7 linked regions of the Homo sapiens genome follow. The protein of the gene in region 7 purifies or fractionates together with the protein of the main gene of each other region. This does not show direct contact. Each region holds a gene or a part of one and is shown on either strand. Other genes may lie near its edges. The genes, in order: PTPN21, SMAD1, NDFIP1, SARAF, ARRDC4, PTCH1 and WWP1.

What was found.
Region 1: the proteins of WWP1 (region 7) and PTPN21 purify together in Homo sapiens (affinity purification with mass spectrometry; 3 studies listed by BioGRID). This does not show direct contact.
Region 2: the proteins of WWP1 (region 7) and SMAD1 purify together in Homo sapiens (affinity purification with western blotting; 2 studies listed by BioGRID). This does not show direct contact.
Region 3: the proteins of WWP1 (region 7) and NDFIP1 purify together in Homo sapiens (affinity purification with mass spectrometry; 2 studies listed by BioGRID and IntAct, with this or other methods). This does not show direct contact.
Region 4: the proteins of WWP1 (region 7) and SARAF purify together in Homo sapiens (affinity purification with mass spectrometry; 3 studies listed by BioGRID and IntAct, with this or other methods). This does not show direct contact.
Region 5: the proteins of WWP1 (region 7) and ARRDC4 purify together in Homo sapiens (affinity purification with mass spectrometry; 2 studies listed by BioGRID and IntAct, with this or other methods). This does not show direct contact.
Region 6: the proteins of WWP1 (region 7) and PTCH1 purify together in Homo sapiens (affinity purification with western blotting; 2 studies listed by BioGRID). This does not show direct contact.

Annotation. Positions count from the first base shown.
Region 1 is NC_000014.9:88,471,155-88,475,263, forward strand, and holds part of PTPN21 (tyrosine-protein phosphatase non-receptor type 21), read right to left. Parts: intron 2,649-4,109; coding exon 2,511-2,648; intron 1,312-2,510; coding exon 1,090-1,311; intron 1-1,089.
Region 2 is NC_000004.12:145,540,416-145,544,524, reverse strand, and holds part of SMAD1 (mothers against decapentaplegic homolog 1), read right to left. Parts: intron 1,944-4,109; coding exon 1,827-1,943; intron 1-1,826. UniProt on the Homo sapiens protein: Transcriptional modulator that plays a role in various cellular processes, including embryonic development, cell differentiation, and tissue homeostasis.
Region 3 is NC_000005.10:142,132,279-142,136,387, reverse strand, and holds part of NDFIP1 (NEDD4 family-interacting protein 1), read right to left. Parts: coding exon 4,046-4,109; intron 659-4,045; coding exon 571-658; intron 1-570. UniProt on the Homo sapiens protein: Activates HECT domain-containing E3 ubiquitin-protein ligases, including NEDD4 and ITCH, and consequently modulates the stability of their targets. As a result, controls many cellular processes.
Region 4 is NC_000008.11:30,069,166-30,073,274, reverse strand, and holds part of SARAF (store-operated calcium entry-associated regulatory factor isoform 1 precursor), read left to right. Parts: intron 1-3,215; coding exon 3,216-3,633; intron 3,634-4,109. UniProt on the Homo sapiens protein: Negative regulator of store-operated Ca(2+) entry (SOCE) involved in protecting cells from Ca(2+) overfilling.
Region 5 is NC_000015.10:97,963,532-97,967,640, forward strand, and holds part of ARRDC4 (arrestin domain-containing protein 4), read left to right. Parts: intron 1-2,068; coding exon 2,069-2,135; intron 2,136-2,363; coding exon 2,364-2,511; intron 2,512-4,109. UniProt on the Homo sapiens protein: Functions as an adapter recruiting ubiquitin-protein ligases to their specific substrates. Plays a role in endocytosis of activated G protein-coupled receptors (GPCRs).
Region 6 is NC_000009.12:95,446,300-95,450,408, forward strand, and holds part of PTCH1 (protein patched homolog 1), read right to left. Parts: intron 3,642-4,109; coding exon 3,542-3,641; intron 3,025-3,541; coding exon 2,770-3,024; intron 1,153-2,769; coding exon 613-1,152; 3' UTR 612-612; intron 93-611; 3' UTR 1-92.
Region 7 is NC_000008.11:86,345,290-86,349,398, forward strand, and holds part of WWP1 (NEDD4-like E3 ubiquitin-protein ligase WWP1), read left to right. Parts: intron 1-4,109. UniProt on the Homo sapiens protein: E3 ubiquitin-protein ligase which accepts ubiquitin from an E2 ubiquitin-conjugating enzyme in the form of a thioester and then directly transfers the ubiquitin to targeted substrates.

The sequences.
Region 1 (4,109 bases), on a different chromosome or scaffold from region 7:
CTGGCATTCACAGGCAGACTGCCAGTCTCCAGAAAGCCTTGGTGTCAGCTTGTTCCCTTCTCAAATAATACTTGCAAACTAAAGAAAAAAACCACCACCTGTCCACAGTTACTCATTCACTCACCATGAGATTTCTCCTTCCCAAAATAAAGAATTGAATGTGGCCAGCATGAACAAAGGGTACAATGAGGAAGAGGGAACATCTGGCTTTATTCCATCATGTGTTGTGAATCATCATTTTGTCCATTTTCATAGGAGTGATATTACCCCAGATAAGGTGCCAAGAACATACACTAGGGAAGGACAGCCTCTTAAATACATGGGACTGGGAAGACTGGATATCCATAAGCAGAAAAGTAAAACTGGACCCCCTATCTCTCACCATAAACATTACCCCAGTTTAATGGCATTATACTGGTTCCAGGAAAAAAGCACTTCTTCAAAGAAAAAAAATGATACTTAAAAATTATTATAAAGAGTATGTAAAGAGAACAGATGGCACCTTGGTAAGTTGAAAGCTTTTGTGAACACCATCAAAAAGCCCAGACACTTTTGTTACATAAAAATGCATGTCAGTATGTGATGAGGAAAAACTAGCAATTCAGTGGCTCCCAGAATTTATGAGCTAAAAAGAGGTCTTCAGATTTAGAAGGACAAAGTTCTAAAGCCAGGCAACACAAGGTCAAGGCTGTAGGGAGCCATGATCATACCACTGCACTCCACCTGTCTGGGCGACAGAGCAAGACTCTATCTCAAAAAAGGCAAAAGAAAAAAAAAAAAGCCGGGCAAATAAGTGCGCCCTGAGTCCTGGTAACAGTGTTGGGGGCAGAGTGGTTTCGCACATGGAGAGTAGACATGACTTTGGCTCTGTCTGATAGACGCTTTTTATCTAGCACTGGTATGTGGATTTCCCAGCTTGCAGTACAGTTTGTCACAAATGTTTAAAACTAGGGTGTTTATCTAAAACAATACAATAAAAATAAATTTTAAAATATCTGAATTCTAAACAGACATGAATACAATTCTTACCATTCTTGTAACTTAACTGAAACTGCATGTGCTGTTGATTACTTGAGGCGTTCCTCTCACCTTAATATGTGATGCGTTGATGTAACCAGTGTTGTTTTCTTTAGTTGGGACCAACTCCACTCTCACATCATCATAAGGAAGAACATCTTGGAATCGATTTCTTTCTGCATTTTCAGGGAGTCGTGCTGTTGAGCACTCCCCATCAACTAGCCGTTTCTTAAGAATTCTTTCATATTCTGTGAATACCATTCCTTGTTCTAATCGTTGTTCCAGAATTTTACACTATAAAACAGAATATGTGTAATAACATGAATACAGCCACACGTCGTGGCTACCTTTTGACTGTATATTTGAAATCTTGTTTTCTGCTTCAAATCTAGCACTGTATAATATTGAAAATTCTAGGTTGGGCACGGTGTCTCATGCCTGTAATCCCTGCACTTTGGGAGGCCAAGGAGGGAGGATCACTTGAGCCTAGGAGTTCAGGACCAGCCTGAGAAACACAGTGAGACCCCGTCTCTGCAAAAAATTAAAAAACGAGCCAGGTGTGGTGGTGCATGCCTGTGGTCCCATCTACTTGGGAGGATGAGGCAGGAGGATTGCTTGAGCCCAGGAGGTTGAGGCTGCAGTGAACCATGAGAACCTATCTCAAAAAAACCAAACCAAAACCAAAACAGAAACAAAATTCTAGGTGAAAATGAAGTTAAAATTTTAAAAAGCCACAACAACAAGAGTTAAAAGAACAAAAGACAATCATTTTGGTGAGAAATATAATGCAAACTTTTGTTTAAAGTTGAAAATTGGCCTAAAGAAATTTGTTGAATTCATTTTCTCTAGATCTGTGGTCAATTTTGTGACCCCTAATAGATGGAATTCTCCTGGGGAACAGTAAGTAAATCTAGGGGACGGATAATGAGTTCCAACAGCTATGAACAAATGTTTCCATTTTATGTCATACGATATATAAAAGACTAAAGCAGTAGGAAATATTCGAAACTACCTCCAGGATCCCGTTGTAAAGCAAATGTATGCCTATCTGATTTTGATGTAATAAAACCTCATAGAAAATACACCTCAGGCACAAAGGAAGTTTTGAAAAATTGAGAAACTACTCTCGAGATAAACTTTCAGTATAATAAAAGTCAATGTCTGCTGCTTTTCCCCTGTATGCTCCTGTATTTTTGTAGATTTCTTCTCACTTTAAGGCCATCAAAATCAAGACTGCTCCAAAAGGCCAGGAGAAGGTAAAAAAGAACACTGAGAAACAAACAAACAAAAAATCAGCATTCGAACCTGAAATTATCTATTAAGACATTAGCTATACATTTGCCCCAATTTTGAGGCCCATATTACAAAATTCCTTAACACTCATTTATTATTAAATTGTGTTAGAAAATTCACCAAAATCTCATGAAGGCATTTGCGTAGTATTTACCGGTTGTTCCAGAGAAGGCACAAAGCCCTGTGTGTCCCATACATACCCTTTCATCATTCGTTGCTCTGGTAGCCACTTCCTTTCCTTCATCAGGCAGAGGCACTCGAGATAGGGAGAGTCCATTTAGGGCAGCCAGTTTAAGAGGACCAATTTTTTTTGCATCTACTCGAGTCTTTTTCATTCCCTGTAAAAGGATTTATATGTATATATGAAATATACACAAATACAACCCCTGTGAAAAGAAGTTTCAATGCACTGAAGACCAGGAACACACAGAGGGAGTGTTCTCCTTTGCCAATAAACCCAGAAAGATTACACTCCTTCACACACCACTTGTTTAACAAACATTAGTAGGAAGACATTCCTTTCAAGGCCAAAGCCCTGATAAAGTCTTCCAGATAGAAGGTTTTGAAACACTATTGGTTACAAAGTTCTGTTGTAATGAAAGGTGAGGCTCCAGGCAGACTGCATTCCTTTTAAAACAAGACAGACGTAACAAATCAGCTGAAGTCCAAAAAAAAAAAAAAAAAAAAAAAACAAAAGCTTTAAATGCAATCAATTGACTATAGTAAGCTTTTATAAATTTTTTTTTTGAGGGTCTCACTCTGTCACCCAGGCTGGATGGAATGCAGGGGCACCATCATAGCTCACTGCAGCCTCAACCTCCAGTCTCAAGCAATCCCACCTGAACCTCCCGAGTACCTGGGACTACCAGCACATGCCACCATGCCCAACTAATCTTTGTGTGTTTTGTAGAGATGGGGTCTCACTATGTTGCCCAGGCTGGTCTCAAACAACTGAACTTAAGCAGTGTTGGCCTCCCAAAGTGCTTGAGATTACAGGCGTGTGCCACCATGCCCGGACAGCTTTTTATAATTTTTAAAATATATAAATTCTTTAAGTCATTCTGAAAAATTAAATGGTTTCTGCAGCAGCCCCCTTTGTGTGTTAAGCCCCCTCCTCATATGCTACTCTGCATTCTAGTGCAGACTTAGATGACCCGGGTTAGATCACGCTACCTCTCAGAACGGCTACGTTTTTAAACAAGGAAAATAAAACAGGGCTAAAATCTCCATCATGACACCAGGAGGATAGGACAGAAGAGAAAGCATCAACAAAATCTTGTCTCCTGAAATCAAGTGTTTCCTAAAATTATTATTAGAGCATGATTTTCCTCTCTGAGAATAGTAAGCATAAGAACACTAAGTTGACCAGGTGCGGGGGATCACGCCTGTAATCCTAGCACTTTGGGAGGCCGAGGTCAGGAGATTGAGACCATCCTGGCCAATATGGTGAAACCCCGTCTCTACTAAAAATACAAAAATTAGCTGGGCGTGGTGGCACATGCCTGTAATCCCAGCTACTCGGGAGGCTGAGGCAGGAGAAAGGCTTGAACCTGGGAGGTGGAGATTACAGTGAGCTGAGATCGTGCCACTGCACTCCAGCCTGGAGGCAGAGTGAGACTCCGTCTCCAAAAAAAAAAAGAACACTAAGTTTCGTTGGATATACTACACTTCCTTGGATGATATCAATATAATGAGTAGCCCCAACTGGAAAATAATGGTTCTGCCCTGTAAACAAAATCCGTGTTATTCCAGCTCTCTCAGCCTGTAACAGGCCATGAAGCCCCATGATAATGGTGCAA
Region 2 (4,109 bases), on a different chromosome or scaffold from region 7:
ACTGCAACCTCTGCCTCCTGGGTTCAAGTGATTCTCCTGCCTCAGCCTCCCAAGTAGCTCGGACAACAGGGGCCCGCCACCACACCCAGCTAATTTTTGCATCTGCAGTAGAGACAGGGTTTCACCATGTTAGGCAGGCTGGTCTTGAACTCCTGACCTCAGGTGATCCACCTGCCTCGGCCTCCCAAAGTGCTAGGGATTACAGGCGTGAGCCACCGCGCCCAGCCTTCATCACCAGTTTTTAAATCGATGTTTAAAGCAGTTTTAGGTTCACAGCAAAACTGAGTATAAGACAGAGTGATTTTCCATATGCCCCCCACCCCCACACCTTCCTAGCCTCCCTCATTATTAATATCCCCCACCAGAGTGGCACATTTGTTTTAACTGATGAACCGACATTCATCCTACAGACCTACAACCAAAGTCTACGGTTTGCGTCAGGGTTCACTTATGGTGTACATCCTATGGGTTTGGATAAATGTATAATGACATGCAGTTACCACTGTATAATGTGTCATAGAGACAAAATCAATTTTAAGTACTTAAAAATATAAGCAACTCCTATTTTAATAAGTATCTCCTATTTTAATAAAAAAGCACTAAAATGAAACAAGACATACCTAGTAACCAAACTGTACTTTAACTTCAATTTGCATAAACATTATATAAATTGCATGACCCATGCCATGTGTTGAGTGCAGCAGCAAAGCACTTTCTTTCATGAGAGGTTATTTAGGAGCAGTTTTATTTGCCAGGGTGGCTGTGGATTCTAACAGATTTCTCAGAGAGTCTACCGAACTTATTTACCTGAGTTCTCTGCTCACTTAAGTCTATCCTACTTGCCTATGTAGAGCTGGAAGAATGATGGCATCCTCCACTCGGTCACTGCTAAGGATATATACAGCGCTGGAATCAAAGACCCACCCTTTACTAAAGGGGGAAAGAAATTTTTCATTTCTGCTTGCAAGTTCTTCAGGCTGAGAAGGGGAAAAACTTGTGCCTCAATTCCTTTTAGTAACAAAGTTAGAAACAAATAGCAAGAAATTCTATTAGTTTGTTCCAGTTGTAGTTGCACATACATAAGAGCTGAAAAACAGACGGGGTTTATGTGTATCTATCCTAATTACAGAAGAAAGCCTTTGGACAGCCCAGTTATACCAACTTCCAACTTTGGAAATCACCAGTGAAAACTCTACTTCAGTACTGTTATACTTATTGTTTCTAAATACCATTTTGTTCATTTAAAAATACTCTTTTTGGCTGGGTACAGTGGCTCACGCCTGTAATCCCAGCACTTTGGGAGGCCAAGGTGGGCGGATCACCTGAGGTCAGGAATTCGTGACCAGCCTGGCCAACATGGTGAAACCCTGTCTCTACTAAAAATACAAAAATTAGTCGGGCGTGATGGTGTGCACCTGTAATCCCAGCTACTCAGGAGGCTGAGGCAGGAGAATCACTTGAACCTGGGAGGTGGAGGTTGCAGTGAACCAAGATCGTGCTCCAGCCTGGGTGACCAGAGCAAAACTCCGTCTCAAAAAAAAACAAAAAAAAAATTTTCATCATCAGTTAAAAATTATTAAGTATTAAAGATCTAAACAGATAACTGCAAAATTATTCTCAGATCTTCATTAGTTAAGTCAGTGTATTTGTTCTTTAAATTAAAGACTTACTTGTTATCCAGCAATTGTAGTGAGCTTCTCTTAACATTGGACTCTATTTTTCTCAAGTAGCTCTCTTTTTAAAGACTAATAAAAATTTGTGAGAGAAAGTAACATCTGGACAAACTTTAGACTCTAAAAAAGGGAACAGGCAGCAATTAGTTTTACCTCCTCTGTTGATTTCTGAGGGCAGGGGAGGCGCCATCATGTTTGTGTCCATCGGCTGAGAGCCATCCTGGGTCATGGGGTCTTCAGGAGGCAGGTAAGCAGGTGGGGGCGTATCAGCTACAAAGTTTTTAAAGAAGTTATTTCTTAACCCTTAGTAAACATACATGCTCAAAACACGTATCCTCTTCTGTACTGAAATTCTCAAGAGATCAAGTTGTCATTTCAATCTCCCCATTAAAAGACTAAAGGCTACAGGCACTGCCTTGATGTACAATTTCTGAAAAGTATTAACCATGCCACAATCATATACATTTTTGTGAAAATTCAGTGGGAGGAAAAGAATTATACTATATGCCAGTTCCAGAAGCTGTTTGCCTATGCAGGATCATGCTGTTTAAAAGCAATCAGAAGAGTATTTTAAGCACACTTTAATATAATCTGCTTTGAGAGGACCTCTGCATTTCAGTTTCACTGATAGATGGAAAACCTCTGAAAGCTTCACTGGACTTCTTAAGAAAAGGAGCTTCAGGGTCTTTTGCATTAAATCTATGGGCTTTTAGAAAATTCACCAAGTTTCATTATAGCCTACTGATTTGAACTGTTAATTTTCCATGACTTTAGGGAATCTGTTAGGACCACACTCTCCCTACTCATTTAAATAATCACTAGCTTTAAAATCTCTAGTAACAGAATAACAGAAAATGAATCAGTTTATCACAGCTATCTCCTATTTCAGAATTTACATATATGTTTCTTCTGGCAAATAAGAGGCAAACATGATTTTTTAAACAAAGAACACTAACACAAGTCTTGCATTTTCTTAATATAAAACAAAGGGTATAGGTTTCTCACAAATAATCCTTTTCCATCCAAAAGCAAGCTCCTCACTAGCTATCATGAGCCCATCTAGCATATGTGTCAGAGCCTTGGAGACAAAATTTTACCTGAGGGAATCGTGAATGTTTGGATAAGTAATCGAGACCACTCAGAGCAACTGTCAAATACAAACAACTCATGTTGTTCCTTCAGAGAGCCCCAGTGATTTCCAAGACTCACTCTCCAGCTGAATCACAACCTGGTAACTTCACATCCAGCTGCTAACAAGCAACAACTCATAGTACTGAGATGGGACTACTGGGACCTTCTCTGGATGCCTCTTTTGCCCCTTTTCAGCTTCTTTTAATTCAGCCTCTTCTCTGCAGCTGTAAGGCTGACTCGGCTTTATCTCAAGCCAGGAACAAAGACAAAGAGCCTCCTCTGAGCCCAAGTCAATGAATTTCTGCCAAGAAGCTGGTGAAAATTTCATTGGCAACCTATGGCATCAGCACAACCAAGAGGAACCCGATAATTCTTGATACTATTCTACTATTCCTACAGGCACCTCCTCCCATCCCTTGCAACTGTTTTCCATATTTCCATTACTTGGCCTTTGCCTTAATCCCTGACATTTAGGGACAAAGTGTAAATTCAAGCAATAACCTTTAATTCAATCTTGGGGCCACTCTGGGCTGCCACTGCTCAAAAGTCTTCTGAAATGTATCTCCTCACCACTAACCTGCCCATCATACAGGTTAGTGGTGAGGAGGAAGGGAGAGAGGTAGACAGGAAGTCACCAGTTACTTTGATTTTTAAACTAGTCTGTCTCCCAACCCTCATCCCAAACAGCTTTGGACTGAAAACCGGACAAAACAATGTGAAATAAACAAGATTTAAATAAAAGAAGGTAATAAATACATAAATAAAAGAAAGCAATATAAATGTGGACCACTTTTCAATTTTTGAAGGCCTAGCACTGATGTTGAATTCAAATTTACTTAAAAACATTTCAAGCAGCCCAATAAACACACTTGCCCAGTCATTTTCCCTTCCGAAAACATTAATAGATGTTAAGTATATTTTTGTTTAGGGTATCTTTCTTAAAGTCTACTGGCAAGAAATTTGGCACTCTTTTTTTTTTTTTTTTTGGAGATGCTTGCTCATTAACCTGTAACTTAAAAATATATAATGTCCTTATTAATCATTTATTTTGATAACCATTACACCAACAGTTATGTCTAGAAAAAGAGGATAATTGTTTTTTGTCTTTGCTAAGTTGAACAAGCAGATGGTTTCCAGTACTTCTGTTGTAATTCCTTTGTTGTTAAAGTATACGTTTCTTGGGATTACATCATCATTTGAATGAATTTAATTAAGTAGGGGGTGGGATCCCTCAGGAAATATTTTTTCTGAGGTTGCACTTGCAACAGGAGTTTTTTCCATGTATGAAAACGATGCTGATTGAGG
Region 3 (4,109 bases), on a different chromosome or scaffold from region 7:
AATAATCTGATTCAAGTCACTCATCCTCCTGTTCTCTGAATTTTGACAACTTATATAACATCACCTCTAAAAGCATTGCATTTTCTTATCTTTCTAATACAACAAATAAAGGAAATGGTTGCTCACTTCTATGTGAGGCACACAAAAAGATAAATGGCAAGTAACATGAAGGGAGAAAATCAGGCTGACTTTGATCTGTCAGAAAAAAGAAGCTTTCAGAGCAAAATTCATCAAAGGCATTTAATTCCTATTCTACAGATTAAGTATGAGTAGAAGCAACGCAAAAGGGCCCCGTAGACCTGGAAGATGAGGCTTAGCTCATGTAAAAATGCAGCATCCTCATAACTGCTTTAATTATATTTTCCACAGATATTCATGAAAATAGAAGGCAAAGAGAAGGGATATTAAAACAAAGGTATATTAAGCTTTGAATATTCCAGTAAAAGGCACCAAATAAACATAATGTATTAATATATTAGCTCAACTAGTTATTTTAATTCAGTCAGATTCACCCATAATCCAAAGCACTCTAGTTTGTAGGGGGTGGTTCTGATATGCATACATACTTACTGAAAAAAGTTAACATGAAAATCCCATCATTTCCTATCCTCAGCTGGTCAGCATCATCAAAATCATCCCGACCCACAAAATCCTCATCCTAAATGAAAAGAAAAAGAATTATTTCTAGGCAAAGGGAAGACATAAAGAAAAATGAAGGGTTAAATTTGAGTAGCAAGGAAAAAAGTTATTGCTTTGGTTCAGTTCAAAATTATGAGCATTAAAGGCTCAATGTGTGTTTAAAATTCCATTTTGCATTATTAATATATAATTAGAAAAGAAGCAAATCTTTCTTCTATCCCCAGTGTTCTAAATGAAATTTTCATCTTATAACCCAAGTTCTTTAACAATACACTTCAAAAATTTAATACACTTCAAAAACAATACACTTCAAGAATAGTTCACAAAGAACTATTTACTCTTCCTTTAAAAAAATATACCTCAAGAAAAGACAAAAGACAAAATTTACTTACACATTTGGTTTAAATTCTAGAATATCAGTAATCGAGGACCTGTTTAGGACCTAAAATATTAGTAATTAGAGATAAAATCAGCCAGGTGCAGTGGCTCATGCCTGTAATCCCAGCACTTTGGGAGGCCAAGGCAGGCAGATCACGAGGTCAGGAGATCGAGACCATCCTGGCTAACATGGTGAAACCCGTCTCTACTAAAAATACAAAAAAATTAGCCGGGAGTGGTGGCGGGCACCTGTAGTCCCAGCTACTCGGGAGGCTAAGGCAGGAGAATGGCATGAACCCGGGAGGCAGAGCTTGCAGTGAGCCAAGATCCCACCACTGCACTCCAGCCTGGGCAACAGAGTGAGACTCCGTCTCAAAAAAAAAAAGATAAAATCAACCAGCTCAAGTGCTTTACGAGGCTGATATAGGGGAAAAAAGAATAGTACGATCATACATGAATAGTCCACAGAACTGCCCACTGCTCAACTCCATAAGCATGTATTTGTATTGGTATACAGATCTAAATCTCACTTCTAACCTTATCAGCAGATAAGATCTTTTCCATCCTAACTTGATAACGTAATATTGCAAAACTAGAAATAACATGATCATGAACAATACCAACACATGTGGGCTATCTTTTTAACTGATATAGGTGTGTGTTGAGATATTTAAAAATAATTGAATATATACTTAAAAGTGATAGATTTGTACACAGTTCAATGAGGGCTCCTTAAATGAAAAATATTTTAGGGAATATCAAAACTTGTTGTACACAGAAAAGGGTCTGGAAGACCCAAATTGTTAACAGTGGTTCCCCTGGGGAGTGGGAACTAGAGAAAGGGAAGTCGGTGGCAATGGCAGCTTCCTTTTCTAACTTAACATACTTCCTCTATTGTTTGAAATTTCTATAAAAACGAATTTTTATAATTAATTTTTTAAAACATTAAATACCTAGTATTCTTACTTCGTATCAGCAGAATAAGGTTTTGCCAAAATTAAAAGCTAATTGTTTTTTGCATAACTATTCAAAGATATACTCCAAAAAATATATGGAAGTAACATCTAATAATATTACGAACACCTTCTAACTGTTCTTCCTGTCCTCTTGGTATCTCTTCTACCATGATGCATCCTAGAAATTGCTGCCAAGTTAATGTTTCCAAAACACCACACAAGTCCTCTCATACCCCTGCTCAAAAACTCTGAAGGATTCTCTAAAAGCTACATATGAAGTTTAAATACGCCCATCTAACATTCCAAAGATTCTATAAACAACAGTTGTAGTCAGGACTTTCTATCTCCCTTCACAAACTCTTGCTCATACAAAGCCAATTACTACATCCACAGAACTGCCTTCACCTGGCTGAATTCACACCTGCTTTCTGTGCCTTTTTCCCTCTGGAATGTTCTTACCCATCAAAACTCCGGGCCCACATCAAATCTCATTTTCCCCTATGATCACCCAGTAAAAAGTTTCAGTTCTTGATGCCCACTGCTCTTATGTGTCTTAGTTATCAGTATTTGTGGGCCCTTTACCCTAGTTGGATTTTAGGCTTTTGAATAACAATGAGGAACACTGCCTTATACAAAGCTTTTTACCTATCCACTGTAAAATATACTGCATCTTATATTTAAAAAGTGCTTTATACATGTCTGCTGAATACTAGAGCCCTTTAAGAAGTTCCTAAATATGTACTTGTATCAAATGAAAGTATTCTGAAGAGTTATGTGATTAATCAGAGCTAATTTCCATACTGATCTATTTACCATATATTGCAACAGATCTGCAGAGTACAGTGAAACAAACAAGGACTTTGGATTCTAGAATATCTGGGTTTGACTTTCACTTCTGCTACTTATCAGTCATATGACTTTGGGAAAATTACTTTTTCTCTCTGGACCTAAATTTTCACATCTGTAAAATGGAGATAATATAATCTCTACCTTTCAAGGTTACTATGAAGATTGGAAACAATATACAAAATATATAAAAGCATCAAGCACAGTACCAAGCATGTGGTTTGCTTCCAATATACGGCAGTTACATTATGATGGTCTTGCCCTTAGACACTAGGGTTTTTAGTTTCTCCCTGGTACCTGTAAGAACTGAATGCACATCATCGCCATTTAGGATCATCCTAGATTGGGCTCATAAACTATTTCTACCAAGCAATGATTTTAGGAGCTTCGCTCCTCACAGTAGGTGTGGTCTGCAAACTGTCTACTATCTTAAAGCCAAGAGGGGAACATCTGGGCCTATGCCATCACACTGCCCAGACTAGGCTTCTGTACTTGCTCATCACTCACTCCAGTTACTTGCTAGAATAGAGCCTAGAGGCCTGATGGTCCCCGCATTTCTGGGGACTTATCCTGCTTCCATTCTCCCACAATGCCCTACCTTCATCAGCCTCAATCTGGATGAATATTTACAAAATGACAAATGCAGCACTCACATATCTGACATCAAGAACCAAGAGTGCCCAATAATCTCCACTGGTTTATATGGCATCCCAATCTCCACCTCCATGAATCAACATCAGGCTAGATGGAATCTGAACTCACTATGTCCCCACAAATGACATGATCTGGACTGCTGGAAGAACGGAGTTCATCTAAATCAATGTGAAGATCCCTCTTATGAGTTTAATTCTACAAATTTGCATATATTTATTCTCTTCCTAGACCTCCCTAGCAGCTATCCACCCAACAGCAAAATATTAAGTGTGCAGAATCAAGGAAACATTAGTGTGCTTCTGCTTCAAGATACTTCAGCCATCCCAGGAGACTTGAAAAAGTAGTGGTAATAGGAGAGATGAAGGAAAAATGAGCAGGTCTGACTAGTAATTTACCTCATCATTTTTAAGAAGAGATGAGTTTATTATCCCAAAAGCAAATGTACCTGATTTTTAAAATTAGCTCTACTTTCACTAATCAATACAATCATAAGTAACGAATCAAAATTGGATAATGAAAATAACTTAATTCCCACAGAGCAGCCATCAAGTAACATGGCAAATTATACTCACTCTCCCAGGAACCAAAGGGATAGTAGCTTCAGCCTTGGTCCTCTCCGCTTCATCATAACTGGGC
Region 4 (4,109 bases), about 56 Mb from region 7:
ACATATTTCTACTTTGTATTCTGACTGCTTTCAAAATTGATTTAAGACGACTGGTCACAAGGCAAGAAACTTATGTTGACGATTTCCCCTCTCCATCAGAATGATATTCTTGTTTGATACAACCTTTATGCGTGGTCTTTGCAATTCAGAGAGGAAGTTGATGTGTACTGGGTGATACTTACTTCACAATATTTTCCCCCAGTACTGCTAAGTTGAATCATAGAATTCTCTGGGTTATAGCAGAAGTCTCACTCCACTTTACTTATGACTTTTAGAGTCTTGATGGGAAAAAAAGGCAGTAATGGTGATGTCATTCATTAAGCATGTATTAATTGCAATATACAAAAATGAATAAGGTAGAATGAAGAAACTGTCTTACTAGTAGAAGAGGTAAGACAGGCACTCAGATTACATGTAGGTCCCAACACAACATTATAAAGTCACGTCTGGTTGGAGCCATTGGGACTTAAAGGATGAGACATTTGTGCTGTGTTAGGAAGGAATGATAACATTTTTAGAGAGGAAAGGCTAGAGAAGGGAATAGCATGAGCAAAGGAGTGTTGAGCATATCATACATTGGCTTATGTTTAGTAGCAGGAGAGAGGCCATTTAGTAGCAGGACAGAAACTCCTTCTATTCCAAGAGTTGAAATTTAAATACAGTACTTAGAAGCTACTTGTAAGTACGCATGATTAAGGAAGTGGTAGTTAACATGAAATACCAATACAAGTTTAGCTTGTTTTATTTACCTAAGTCAACAAACCTATGAATCTTCCTCCAAATAAAATTATTTTAAAAACAGTGTAGTAACAGCAACAAAAGAAAAACTGCATCTTATCCAAATGAAAAACTTTTGACTATCAAAGGACATCATCAAGAAAGTGAAAAGACAACCTACAGAATGGGAGGAAGCTTAGCAAATCATAATTGGTGAGGGACTTGTATTTAGAATATAAAATAACTCTTACAACTCAGTAAGAAAACAACCAAGGTAAAAATGGCAGAGCATCTGAATAGACATTTCTACAAGGAAGATATATAAGTAATAAATAAGCACATGAAAAGTGTTCCTTATTATTAGCCATCAGAGAAATGCAAATCAAAGCCACAGTAAGATACCACTTCACACTCAGTAGGAAGGCTATAATAAAAAAGATAACAAGGCTGGTGAGGATGTCGAGAAATTGGAACCCTCATACACTGCTGTTGGGAATGTGAAATGGTCCAGCTGCTTTGGAAAATTGGCAGTTCCTCAAAAGTTTAAATGTAGAGTTACCATGTATGCCTCAGTCATTCCACTCCAAGGTATATACACCCAAGAGAATTGAAAACACATGTCCACACAAAAACTTGCATACAAATATACATAGCAGCATTATTCATAATAGCCAAAAAGTAGAAACAATTCAAATGTCCATTACTAATGAACGATAAATAAAAGTGGTATATCCATGCAAAGAAATATTATTTAGCCATAAAAAAGTGAAATAGTAATACATGCTACAACGTGGATGAATCTTGAAAATGTTATGCTAAGTGAAAGAAGCCAGTCACAAAAGACCACATATTGTATTATTACATTCCTGTGAACTGTCCATTTAGGGAAATCCATATAGACAGAAAGTTGGTTGGGAGGTGTGCGGCGGGAGAATGGAGAGTGACTGCTAATGGGCACAATATTTCTTTGGGGTGACGAAAATATTCTAAAATTGATTGTGGTGACAGTAGCACAACTGTGAATATACTAAAACCATTGAAATGGGTGAATTGTATGGTATGTGTGAATTATATTTCAATAAGGCTATTATAAATGAAGTAAAATAGTGTGAACTTTGAAAGAGGAAAATAATTTGTACAAAAATTTGCAGAAGGGCAACAGAACCAATTAAATCTACTTTAGCTTGTGTCTTTTTTCATTTTTTTTGAGACGGAGTCTCCCTCTGTCACCCAGTCTGGAGTACAGTGCAGTGACATGATCTTGGCTCACTGCAACCTCTGCCTCTGGGTTCAAGTCGTTCTCCTGCCTCAGCCTCTATTTTTGAAGTAGCTGGGATTACAGGCGCCTGCCACCATGCCCACCTCATTTTTGTATTTTTCGTAGAGATGGGGTTTTGCCATTTTGGCCAGGCTGTTCTTGAACTCCTGACCTCAGGTGATCCGCCCACCTTGGCCTCCCAAAGTGCTGGGATTACAAGCATGAACCACCGCGCCTGGCCTTTAGCTTGTATCTTAAGAGTTAAAGAAGCATATTGCTTTTTCCACCACAAAATATAGAATCTAGACCAAACTTGGGCATATATTTTTTTATAAGGTGGACATTTTTGGGGCTAGCCTGGGTTCTTTTTGCATTTTTCTAAATATCTTTAAAAAATACAAGAGAATTACATAGAATTGGACCTTGGAAAGTTAGTCCATGGTTTTATAAAATTTGTGTAGAAAAGTTTTTTTCTCTGAAGGTTATGTAATATCTCTGTTGCTTTGTGTAGCTACCAGACATTCATATATGATGCTGTTTTGAGCCTTAACATCTTTTAAGAAATCTGGATTTTTAAAGAAAGCATCTTGAACAACAGTGGCAAAAAGTTGACATTTTGGCAGTTTGCTTAAATTTTATAAATTGTAGAATACTTAATATGTTCAGATGGATATATAACATGTATATGTAAAGAATAGTAATAAAACGAATACTCATATACGCAATATCCAGCATAAGAAGTAGAACACAGATACCACCATTATCTTTGAAGCCCCTCATTTTCCTTCCCTTAGACATGAATACTTACCATTGTGAATTTTGCGGATCATTCCCTTGCTTCATTTTGCAATTTTATGACGGATATATAGCCCAAGTAACATTTTTTTTTTTCTTGAGACGGAGTCTTGCTCTGTTGCTCAGGCTAGAGTGCAATCACGATCTCAGCTCACTGCAACCTCCACCTCCCAGGTTCAAGTGATTCTCCTGCCTCAGCCTCCTTAGTAGCTGGGATTATAGGCGCCTGCCACTGCGCCTGGCTAATTTTTGTATTTTTAATAAAGATGGGGTTTCACCATCTTGGCCAGGCGGGTCTTGAACTCCTGACCGCGTGATCCACCCGCCTTGGCCTCCGAAAGTGCTGAGATTACAGGTGTGAGCCACTGCGCCCGGCCCCCAAGTAACATATATTAAATGAAAAAAATGTTTGTTTCTAATAGTCTGTTTCTATTTTTCTTCACAGTGGGAATGTAAGACGGACTTAGATATTGCATACAAATTTGGAAAAACTGTGGTGAGCTGTGAAGGCTATGAGTCCTCTGAAGACCAGTATGTACTAAGAGGTTCTTGTGGCTTGGAGTATAATTTAGATTATACAGAACTTGGCCTGCAGAAACTGAAGGAGTCTGGAAAGCAGCACGGCTTTGCCTCTTTCTCTGATTATTATTATAAGTGGTCCTCGGCGGATTCCTGTAACATGAGTGGATTGATTACCATTGTGGTACTCCTTGGGATCGCGTTTGTAGTCTATAAGCTGTTCCTGAGTGACGGGCAGTATTCTCCTCCACCGTACTCTGAGTATCCTCCATTTTCCCACCGTTACCAGAGATTCACCAACTCAGCAGGACCTCCTCCCCCAGGCTTTAAGTCTGAGTTCACAGGTATGTTTCCCTCGCAGTGGCCATAAATAGAGCGGGTGTGAGGTTAGTGCATCCTGTGCTTGGTTCTGAAATAGAAAATCGTTGCATTGGGAAACCAAAGGAGGTTTGTCTTCTCATTTTGTTTTTTACTTTCAACTTCTTTTACCTCTTCTGTTTGGCTCTCTCCCAAGGTATATTGTGGTTGCTATGTTAATGCCTGATTGGCCGGGCGCGGTGGCTCACGCCTGTAATCCCAGCACTTTGGGAGGCCGGGGTGGGCAGATCACTTGAGGTTGGGAGTTTGAGACCAGCCTGGCCAAGATGGTAAAACGCCGTTCTTACTAAAAATACAAAAATTAGCCGGGTGTTGTGGCGGGCACCTGTGATTCCAGCTGCTTGGGAGACTGAGGCATGAGAATCACTTGAACCCGGGAGGTGGAGGTTGCGGTGAGCCGAGATTGCGCCACTGCACTCCAGCCTGAGTGACAGAGCGAGAC
Region 5 (4,109 bases), on a different chromosome or scaffold from region 7:
CACAAATGCCTGCCATGCTCTTCCTCATGCTATTCCCTTATCTAAATTTCCCTTCCTATCTGTCTCCATTCCAGCCCTCAGGTCCTGAAGATGTCGGGCCCACCCATGTTCCTATGTGGGTGCTCTAGGTTCTAGCACTCCATGGTCATTGCTTGTGTACAAGCATGTAATCTCCTTTCCTCCCCCGGTCTCTTTGAGGATTATCTGCGGTGCCTGAAATCTAAGCACTACACATTTTAAACTCAAATGAAATACACATTTCAAAACATTTGTAAATACTTCGTCATGTTCTGTAATCTAGTAATTTCAAATTAGAACTTTAGCCCAGCTCTTTTAGGAGCACTGGGATTGCCTTGAGCCTTTCACTCCACAGCTGTCAGGTCGAGATGCTTCCCTGGTCCCTGCTCTGCTGCTACCTTCCTGAGCACACGTCAGCCACTGGGACCCGCCCTGCCACTGAATTTAACATGATCTCATGCCCCTGTGACTTGTTCTTCACTTTGCCTCCAGTCACCCAACTGTGGAGTATTCAAATTGACTTAAGTGGCAGGTGTGTCACTTTTTTATCCCCCTTGATGTTAACACATTAAAAATTGGGGATAGATTCAGAAGACCTAATAGGTCAGTAATGTGTTCCTATTTTCTAAAAGTACGAAGTTGAAATGTCAGCTGACTTGGTTAAGGTCATAAAATAAAACTCTATTTTTTTATTTAAGGGATAAAAAATTCCCATTTCACTACTGATTTCTTTAAATTTTTTTTTTTAGTGAATGGATAAAGTAGAAATCTTCATTTTAGTGTCAGATGACCAGGCAAATCTCAGAGTTCTGTCTCTGTGTTCCGATTTCTTCATCTTATTTATCCTATCCACAATAAGGGAATTCAATATTAAATCTGAGCATGAAATGAAAGGACAGTGTATAAGTCTCTCAAGAGAGCCTCCTGACCAACCGTGAAAGCCATGAAGTCTACTTTGGATCTGAATTAAACAGATTGTCTTGGTGCCTTCATCAGAGGTTTCAGTGGTGCCTCTGGCCTTACAAAGTCCCTCCACACCCTGCATTTTGGCCTTCTCACAATCTAGTGATAAGCTTCTGCCTGAAATAAAATGGAGCTGGTAACCCAAAGCTGAGAAAAGGGCCCTGGCCATGCTTGGTAAAGCCCTTTCTGTATTCCAAGTTAGCCACCAAGAAACTCTGTGTTAGTCAGGAGAGCTCAAGGATACATACATGACTTGCTTAATAGCTTGTCTTGTGGGTTTGGCTGTTTTGTGTTATACCCAGTATTAATGATATTCATAAAGTTTTCACTCCCTTTTCCATTTCTGCTCAAAGAATACTCAGTGTGATGTTTCTGGTATACCCAAAATAAATCTGTCTTTTGCTAAATTAGTTTTTGGTCCAATTTAATATTGGTATTTCCCGTTAGTATAATAGAATGGGGGTAAGCAGTTGTGATTTTTACATACACACACACACACACACACATATACATATCCATATACACATATATATGTATGTTGGAGTTCTGAACCTTAGCACTTTAGTAATTGGTCTATTTGAGAATGGAATATATGTGTGTATGTATGTGTGAGTGTTATGGTACTTGGTAAAAACTGGCCAAGTGCAGTAGCTCACCCCTATAAGCTTAGTGCTTTGGGAGTCCAAGGTGGGAGAATCGTTTGAGGCCAGGAGTTCGAGACCAGCTTGGGCAATATAGCAAGACCCTCGTCTCTGGAAAGAATTATTAAAAATTAGTCAAGAACCATGGCACATGCATATAGTCCCAGCTCCTTGGGAGTCTGAGGCAGGAAGATTGCTTGAGCCCAGGAGTTCAAGGCCGTAGCACTCTGGCCTGGGCAATAGAGCGAGACCCTGTCTCTAAAACACATAGACACACGCACACACACCCCCCTTCAAACTTAATTCTCTACATTTGTTTAATGAACTTTTGGAGTATGCTGCATTTTGTAGCGAGAAAAACTTCCTTCAAAAAATTATTTACATTGTGAAAACTCTTGATCTAATACTAACTATCCTTCATTAAAATAAAATACAATCTCTTATAGGTGAAGGCATCATTTTATTACAGCCTGGAAAACATGAATTTCCATTTCGCTTTCAACTTCCATCTGAGTAAGTGAAACACTACAATTTTGTGGTTATCCTTCTCTGCAGTATGTCCATTCAAGTTTATCACTGCTAGGTCTCTTCTGATTCTCAAGTATGCATGTTTACACTGAATAGTCCCTAAATAGACTTACTCTTTTTTTATTTCCAACCTAAAACATTTTAAACCATGCTTTTTTTGGCTTTGTTTAACTGAAAAGTAAACTCATAATTAATGTCTTTGGTTGGTTTCAGACCTTTGGTCACCTCGTTTACTGGGAAATATGGAAGCATTCAGTACTGTGTGCGGGCAGTGTTGGAACGACCCAAGGTACCTGATCAGAGTGTAAAGCGGGAACTCCAGGTTGTTAGTCATGTCGATGTCAACACACCAGCATTATTAGTAAGTTCTTCCTTTTTCTCTTCCTCCTCCTTTTCCTCCTTCCCTCCCTTCCTCCTTCCTTTCAACAGTGGGATCTATATTTAGCCAGTTTACTGGTAGTCTGTCCTGTCACTTTCTGATGGCTTGGAAAACACAATCTTGTAACCCAAAGGCATTCACTATAAATATATGATTCTAGGTTGGACAAATTACAAATTGTGTGTGTTAATACTATTGATTATGTCCCTGCTGTTCAGGGCTTCTTTTGCCAAAAAGTTACACAGGCTTGAAATGCATTAATAAGGCTTAATAACAATAATGCACACACAGAGAGTAGTTACTTTTACCAGAGTGGCCACATTTACAGGACTGGGGTATTCTAAACTCCTCAATAATAGCAGGTTGAGGAACAGTAATTATGGAAGAGTATTAATCATGCTCAGCCTGTTATTGAAGCTCAGGCCATTATGCTATGTATCCTTCCATTTTGCATGTCATTTTCTAACATTAAGTAAGTGCATGCAGCTGCCGCCGAGATCCTTTCACTTATCATTTCCTTATGACAGATTTGGCCACATTAAAGCATTGAACTTCTAATAATCACCAGAAATACTGTAGACTGATAAGAAAGATCAGGCTATAAGTAACAACAGAATAGGCAAGATGGGAGCTAATGAGCTAGATTCTTTTATCTAAACCCATATTATCAAAATAATATAAAATTATACCTTGTACTTTCATGATAGCTACTAGGACCTAATGGTTCTTCATTTAAATATGAATGAATGATTTTTTTTACTTCATAGAAAATACTGAGATAATTTAAACTTTCCATCACGATACTGATGTGACAAAGATGTATTTTTCATGTTGGAGGTTTTTCTAGCCTGTGTTTTTAAAGACAAGGAAAAAGCTAGCAGTTAGAAGTTGTTGTTTAAGTCTTATTTTCGCATGAGAAAGAAATAGAATTTAATGTTCACCTTTAGATTATGAAAAGATAGCAGATATGCTGTGGTTCCATGGCCTCTTGTGGTCAGAATCATAAAACAGCCGGCACCCAGCTGGCCTGGCTTATAGCTGGGACTTTAACAGCCGCTTGAAAACCATTTTTGAAAAATTGGTGATGCCAAGTAGCTTGTATTTTTAAAAACTACTTAGAATTGGGAGGCTGAATATTTTTAAAGTTTTTATGACCATTGTGGGAATTGATTTAAAGGGATTTGTCTTTGCCAAAAACAGACACTGTTGATCCCTTACGATTCTTTATATAAATAAAAAAAAAATATTGCAAGTAACTGGGTTTTACAGAAAGCTTTGGTGTGTGTAACTCGTAAACTGAACATTGTAAATCTTGTAGTAACTTCTCTTGCCACTATAGAATAGAATACTGCAGTGAGAGGGTATGTTTAATAAGCTTTTCAGATCGGTTAACACTACACATGTTATTGCACTATTACACAAAACCCCAAAACCACTCCAAATTAAGAACACATGAAATTTCTGCTTGATAATGCATTTTGAAGTAAGTGGTGGGAAAAGGCTGTTTGTTTATTCCACTTTATTAAATGCCAAAATAAATATAATGTTCTGATTATTTTTTATTTTTATATCATTTATCC
Region 6 (4,109 bases), on a different chromosome or scaffold from region 7:
AACTCCAACCAGTTCTCTTCAAGCAGTTCTGGAAAGAGGTGGGGGTGGGGGGTTTCCAATCTTTGGCCTCTTTGCTTCAGATTTTAATCACCCTTTAAAAGGAAGCAAAAAAGGAAGTTGAACAGAGTAAGAGGTGTGCAAGTCCGTATTTATAAAGTACAAAAGCAGGCAGCAGTAACCTTGGTATTAGAAATCACGAGAGTGGGGTGTGGGCCTGAGGTGTCCCTGGGGGCTGCTTGTGACCTCTCCCTTCATCTGGGGGCTGGTTACACGGATGCGTTCCCATGTGACCAATTCGCTGTGGCATGCACCTCCATAAAGACTGGCAAATATTGGTAAAAGGTGGTGCTGTTTGTGTCCTTGTGGCGCTGCACCGACCCTCCGCAGGTTAGCAGTGGGGGAAGAGAGCAGTGTGGAGCTGGACTGGTTCCCCAAGGATGACAAAGCTTGGACACATCAGCCTTGCTCTGGGGATAAAAGGTCACTGGGGTCCAGCGTGGGATGTGCCCGAGCGCCACAGCCCCTCGGGGATGCCGAGAACCCCAGGAGAACCTTGTCCTCCTCTTTGCCTGGCTCTAGGTCCCTTGGCTGCCCTTGTCAGTGGCACTCACCTCAGTTGGAGCTGCTTCCCCGGGGCCTCTCCTCGCATTCCACGTCCTGCAGCTCAATGACTTCCACCTTCGAATCCCTCCTCTCACACCGGACGTGGAAAGGCACGTGGGGGTCCTCAAACAGGCCGTGGTCAGTCTCAGGGTAGCCTGGGCAGAGTCCCCCTCGGGGGTTCCGCCCAGGCCCAGGGACAGGCGGCGGGTGCACGGCGACAGTCACGGAGGCAGAAGCCGTCACAGTGGTGATGGGCTGGCAGTAGCCGGGCACGGAGCTGCCCATGGCAGTGGACGCTGGGTTCCGAGGGTTGTGAGAACGGGCCCCGCGAGGGCCCCAGCGGGCCCTATTGCTAGGGCCAGAATGCCCTTCAGTAGAAATTTCAAAAGCGTCTCTGCGCGGTCTGTAGGGGGGTGGCCACAAGCCTTCTCTGGGGGGGTCCCTGCGGGGCTGCTGGCCTTGCCGTCCGGGAGGCAGGGACCCTGAGTCCAGGTGGGGCTGCTGTCTCGGGTTCGAGGGTGGGTGATGCCTGGATTCGGGATGGACCACCTGCAGAGGGTGAGGGTGGGTTAGAAGGGTGGTATCCCAGGCTGGGCATGGTCCCCGCAGCTCCCACACTTCCCTCCTTGGGTTTCACCAAAGACTCAGTCAACCCTGGGGAGCCAATGGGGGCCTTCCACCCACAAAAGAAAAGCCTGTCCTTCTAATAACCTCCAGGACCTGGCGGAGGAGCGTGTTGTTTGAAAATCCTGTTTCCAGGCTTTCTCTGACACGGCTGGCTGGACACGTACTGCTGCTGCCCATAAATGTGGGCTGTGGTCAGAGCATCCAAGCTGCTGCCCCCCACAACCTGCCCCCGACCCTGTTAGGTTCTGCAGGCTCTGAGCTGCCCCTCTCCCGAAGTTGCTAAGTGTGCGGCCCTGGCTGGCCTGAGTGCAGGACGCTGGCAGGACTGTCTCTGCCTACTCTGTCAAACACAGTAGCCGCTCCAGACATGTGGTTGCTTAAGTTTTAATGAACTAAAATCCAAAATCCAGCTCCTCGGTAGCCCCGGCCACATTTCAAGTGCTCCACAGCCACGTGTGGCCGGTGGCTCCCATCCTGGAAAGCAGAGAGGGCATTTTCGTCACTGCGGAGGGCTGTGGCGGGCAGCCTGTTCCATCTGATTGTTAAGAATCTGGTCTCTGCGTCTCTATACAAAGCACAGAGCAACACAGTGGCCACATCAATCAAAAGGACCGTGACCAACTTCAAAGTCGTTCAGCTTGTACCTATTTTTAGGCTCCTGCTGAACAAAACCAGATTCACACTGCAGCTCAGCGGGCGTCGTCGCGGGGGGTAGGAGGAGGACAATTCAGGTTATTTGGTTGGCCTTTCTCTCTTTCACGGAAGGGCTGCTCTGGCCTGGGACTGGAATACCCATTTCCTGGAGGGACAGCAGGGGGCCCTCAGTGGAGCAACATCAGCCCAGAACCTTCCTTGAGTTTTCAGGGCTGAGCCCATCCCAGGGAGCACAGGGTGGAGGAAAGGACCCAGGTCCTTGGAGCCTCCGAGGAGGGGCTCCCAGGCTCCTGGTGACCTCCTGAATCACTGAAGGCTAAGAACTCAGGGGTGGTTCTTGGCCTCTCTGCTCTTTCCTGCCACCTGGAACATGAGCTTGGAGCCCCAAAAGCTATGGTAAAGTATTTAGACAATAATAATGAATGTTGTATCAAGGGCATTGAAACCTAACAGAAATGAGAGAAGGAAAAAACCTGACCTCTGTTGGCAATAAAAATACTACTAGTTTTAGAAAATATCACTCTCAAATGACATGCACCTTAAGAGGAAAAAAAAAAAAAAGGCAGGAATGCTTTATCTCTGGCCTTTGAAGCCCAAACTGTCCTCACCCTGAACAAGATAGATGCTACTGCTTTGTGCAGTGACATTACTGGCCCCTGCCCTTTTTATCCTTTATGAGATCAAACCACAGGAAGATGGCATTTGTATAGTTGAGAAAGAGTTAAATACTGGTTATTTCCTATGATTTGACCTAGTCTGTACCTTATCTCTGCATCCCATCTGCCTGTGTGATGTGCTGCTCAGCAGACAGGAGCCCCCGCTGGACCTCCAGGCCCACTACCACGGTGGGAAGACCCCTCCCCCTGGTTCTGCAGAGTCACTTACAGTGGAGTGGGCGAAGACGGGGTTTTCTGTGGCTTCCACGATCACTTGGTGGGCAGGGCCTCCCGCGCCCTGCTGGGCCTCGTAGTGCCGAAGCTCCTCGCTGAGGCCTGACACTGTCGTCTGGGAACTATACTCCGAGTCGGAGGAATCAGACCCGCTGTGCGTGTGGCCGGGCGGCATGGCGAAGCGGACCACGCTGGGGGGTGGCTCAGGGGAGGGTGTGGGCAGGCGGTTCAAGCCGTTGGCTGGAGACACCTATTTAAGGGGATTCCATGTTAAAAGTGTTCTTGTCCATTTACCTGCTGGCCACACTCAAAGCTCAAAGCACGGTATTTTTCAGGGGCCTCTGTTCCCTGCCCTGGGGCCCTGCGCACTGTGCCGTATTAACCTCCCCTTCTCTACCACCTGGAGGACCTTCAGGTCCCGCAGCTGGAGCAGAAGAACTGTCCTCTGCTCCACACTGGAAAGGCAGGATGTGTACTTTTTACTCTTGTGAAGTCCAATTATGCATCTCAAGGGGAAAGTCTTCATTTACTGTATAAAGATCTGTAAGACCCAGGCTGCCAATCAGTTGATTTAGAGGAACCAAACCGAACCCGCCCTCTAGCCCTCAAAGCCAGTACACCGAAGAGGAAAACAGACATGACTCTGAGATGTTTACTGAAGAACCACCAGCAAGTGGGGAGGCACCTAAGTATCGAAGTGAAGAGCGGCACAGGAAACACAGCATTCAGCCGGCCTACACGTGGGACATCCCCGTGTCACTACTGACCTCAGGATATGGTCCAAAGAAAGACAAAAGCACGGGAAGCAAAACCAGCCCATTGAGAACGCCGAGGATGGTGAGGATCGCCAGCACAGCAAAGAAATACCTGGGAGATCAAGAGGAAACGGGAACACGCGCTGTGACAGGGTGGATCGCGCCACCCTCCGTGTGCCCGACACAGCAGCATGGCAACGCCAGAAATGAACAAAACCCACCCCACTGAAAAGGCTGTTATCCAACCGCAGTTCACATTCAACACAAGGTGAGTTTTTGCTTTTTGTTTCTTTACCTTATGACTTTGAGGACTACATTCCACAACCCAAAGTGTTAGTTCATGAAGGGAAGAAAAAAAAAATTAGTTTGTTAATTTGCTGAACTCTGATGGCATGTAATGTTATTTATGAATGTGTTACACAAACACAAAAATATGGAATGCGACCTGAATGGCTGGGCAGACTGAAAGCACAAACACAATGCCGAGGGGCCCCGCTCGTGAAAACCCAGCAGAAGCAAACAAATGAAGTGAAGGGTGTAGAATTTAAACAATTTAGCCCAGGAGGAAAAGCAGCCCACT
Region 7 (4,109 bases):
TGGTAAAATGCTGGCCTGGAAAATTTCCATATGCGCCTATGCTTTGTGGATATAATTTTAGGGGAGTCCATGGAACACCTGAAAGTCATCCATGACACTCATCTCAGAATTTCTTGGAGCTTTTTTTATTTTCGAGGCAGGATTTCTTTCACTCCTGTCCCTGTGGCTGGAGTGCAGTGGCGCCTTCTGGGCTCATTGCAACCTCCGCCTCCCAGGCTCAAGAGATTCTCCTGCCTCAGTCTCCCGAATAGCTTGAACTACAGGCGCTTGCCACCACACCCGGCTAATTTTTGTATTTTTTTTTTAGAGATGGGGTCTCACTATTTTGCCCAGGCTCGTGTTGAACTCCTGAGCTCAAGTGATCAGCTTGCCTTGGCCTTCCTAAGTGCTGGGATTACAGCGTAAGCCACCCTGCCGGGCCTACTGGGAGCTTTTTAAAACAGTAGAACCTTCAGGTTCTTCTGTGTACTGATAAGAACTCTTACTGTAGAGATATGCTGTATATATACAGAAACACAATATTACATTTGTGTTGTGGTTTACAGTTTACAGAGAATTTTGACTAATGTTATTTGCTATTATATTACACAATAAACTATTCCTGGAGTTTAAATGATTTGCCTGAAGCATCATTCAGCTGGTGGGTAAAGTGGAATCAGGAGATTGTTGACAATGATGGTGTTCTTTCATGTATGAAGATAATGCAGTGGCTTTACCATCAATTAAATATAGTTACTGCCTTTAAATGACCTTGTCAGTAAGACTAGATGATCCCACAAGATTCCTTCTAGTTTTTAACATTTTGTGATTCTCGAGTCCTAGACTTTCATCAGAGTATCTACTCTCCTTGTTTAATATGTGCATGAGAGCTGGTGAGTCTGAGGGATGAATTGGGTAGAGAAGAGCAGTTAGCAATATCAGATCATTCATTTGGATTGTTACTTTCTTTGTATGTCTCACTTTGGGCTGGGGAGTAGGGAGGAGAGAGGTGATGTAAGTGAAATAAGAAACTTTAAGAACTTTATTGGGAGGCTGAGGCAGGAGGATGGTGTGAACCCGGGAGGCGGAGCTTGTAGTGAGCCGAGATTGCGCCACTACACTCCAGCCTGGGCAACAGAGCGAGACTCTGTCTCAAAAAAAAAGAACTTTATCTTCTCTGTTCATTTATACCTTCAGAATATTCTTTTCTTTCAGGAAGCCTTTATCAAATAAAAATGGAGACTTCACAATGTAAATGAAGATTCCTACTCAATTTTTTTTGGGTGGATTAAGTAGCTAGCTAGTACGGTTAAAGTGTAGTGCGATTGGTAAACAGTTGACTTTTCTGCACCTGTAAGATTATCTCCCTGGTAATAGGTAATCATAGCATGTTATTACATGTTAATAAACTTTGATTTCATAATTATTAGAAAGACTGTTGTTTTTTACTCTTTGTATAAAAATATGATACAATTATAATGAGCATTGGAAAATCCAATAAATTGCCCTTTATAGTGGTATCCAAGGAACTAGTTACTAATACTTAATGGAGGAAAAATGATAAAAACATACACAGATGAATTTTATTGTTTTTGCTGGCATTAAGAATTGTACTATACCTTATGTTAGTATAGCATTTCACATTTGTAAATAATAACTATATTTATCATTTGGTTCTCATGACAACTGATAAGTTGGTGTGTTAGGAAGTAATAACTGCTTTATATTTTATTTTATTTTATTTTATTTATTTATTTTTGAGACAGGGTCTTGCTCTGTTGCCCAGGCTGGAGTTCAGTGGCACAGTCATGGCTAAACTGAAGCCTAGACCTCAGCCTCCCAAGTACTTGGGACTACAGGTGTATGTCATGACACCCAGCTAAATTTTTAAAATTTTTTATAGAGATGGGGTCTTGCTGTGTTTCCTCAGGCTGGCCTCGAACTCCTGGACTCGTGGCCCTCCCACCATGGCCTTCCAAAGTGCTGGAATTACAGGCGTGAGCCATCGCTTCCAGCCAATCATTGCTTTTTGGATGAATATGCTGAGGCTAAAAAAAAAGTTTAAAAAGTTAAATTTCCAAAGTATGTGGCTAGTTAGTGGCCACAATTAGAACTACAACTAAAACCCTTATTTTTGTTCCTATGTCAGTATTCTTTTCCCACCAGACTTCTTACTCTTCATGTACAATGGAACATCATTAGTTAAGAGCTGTATGTGAAGGATTTGAATTTACCTGTTTGGAATGTGTTAAACTTTTGTACCGTGTAGAGGTAAACTTGTCAGTTTTTTCCTTTGTGTTAAAATGGTAATCTCACTGCAGTGGCTATTGGTAGGTGATATTTAAATTTGTAAGCATTGTACCACAGAATAGTTATTCTCCTGTCAAGGATAAAGCAAAAGTTGATTTCTTATCTGGAAAAGTACATTGGTGAAATGTAGATATTTATTTTTTTGAAAATTTTGAATTTAATTCTGTTGCTTTTACAGATGAAGTTTGTGTTTCCCTTTTATAAAAGCTTAGTCTTCAAAAATTTACATTTTTTGAGGATATAAATGAGGATCTAATTTCCAAAATATATATAGATTGGGTATCCCTAATTCAAAGTTTGAAATGCTCCAAAATGGGAAACTTTGAGCCACCTACATTACTCAACAGAAACATTCACTGGAGTATTTCAGATTTTGGATATTTGGATTAGGGATACTCAACCTGTATCATGATATTTTATTATTTTTGTATTAGATCATAAGCTCTACCATTGAAAAAAACCCAAAGATATTAAAAAGCCCTCCTTAGTGGATGCTTCAATTCATACATTTAAACAACTTTTTTAGGGAATGTATAATGTAAAACCATACGTCAGATGGTTTTTAAGTTATAAGGAAGACTAGCATGGTTTTTAAGTTATAAGGAAGAGTAGCATTTGTTGATTTAGTCTTGACATTTCTTTTTTCTTTTTTTTTTTGAGACGGAGTTTCCCTCTTGCTGCCCAGGCTGGAGTGCAATGGCGCAATCTTGGCTCACTGCAGCTTCCGCCTCCTGGGTTCAAGAGATTCTCCTGCCTCAGCCTCCCAAGTAGTTGGGATTGCAGGCATGCACCACCACACCTGGCTAATTTTGTATTTTTAGTAGAGACGGGGTTTCTCCATGTTGGTCAGGCTGGTCTTGAACTCCAGACCACAGGTGATCTGCCCGCCTCAGCCTCCCAAAGTATTGGGATTACAGGCATGAGCCACCACGCCTGGCCGTCTTGACATTTCTTAAATCTACAGTTCACTCACAGCACATACTGGCGTACCTACTATGTGCCAGACATATTTCTAGGTGCTGGGAGTACAGTGTTGAGATGACAGATATGAAGCCTTTCCTCTTGGAACCTGGAGTTTAGTGGAATCACTAACATTAACAAGGGCATAGAACTTTATCTTCTCAGGTTGTAATTTTGCGGAGTGTAATTAATTATACCTCTCCTTTTTCTGGGGTTTGAACAAATTATGCAGAACACACAAGGAACCAGGTGAGTGTTGTTTCAGTTATGTACTGCTGTGTAGCAAACAGCCCTAAACCAAGTGACTTAAAACAACCATTTTCTTTGTTACAGTTTTGCTTTCCTGGGTTGGGCTCAGTTGGGCAGGTTTTGCTGGTGATCACTCTAATGGCTGCTTTTCTCTCCAAGTAGCCTTTCCAGCAGAGTTGCTGGCCTTACCTGGTAGCTGATGGCTTAGGGCTCACAAGAGTACAAAACAGAAGCAACCAGATCTTTTTTTTTGAGAGGGAGTCTCACTCTGTCACCCAGGCTGGAGTGCAGTGGCTCAGTCTTGGCTCACTGCAACCTCCACCTCCCAGGTTCAAGCAATTCTCCTGCCTCAGCTTCCCGAGTAGCTGGGATTACAGGCGTGCACCACCATGCCCAGCTAATTTTTGTATTAGTAGAGATGGGGTTTCACCATGTTGGACAGGCTAGTCTGGAACTCCTGAGCTCAGGTGATCTGTCCGCCTCGGCCTCCCAGAGTGCTGGGATTACAGGCGTGAGCCACCGTGCCTGGTCTGCAACCAGATCTTCTTAAGGTTTAGACTTGTAAGGGATACAGTATCATTTCTGCCTTATTATACTGGTTAAAGCAAGTC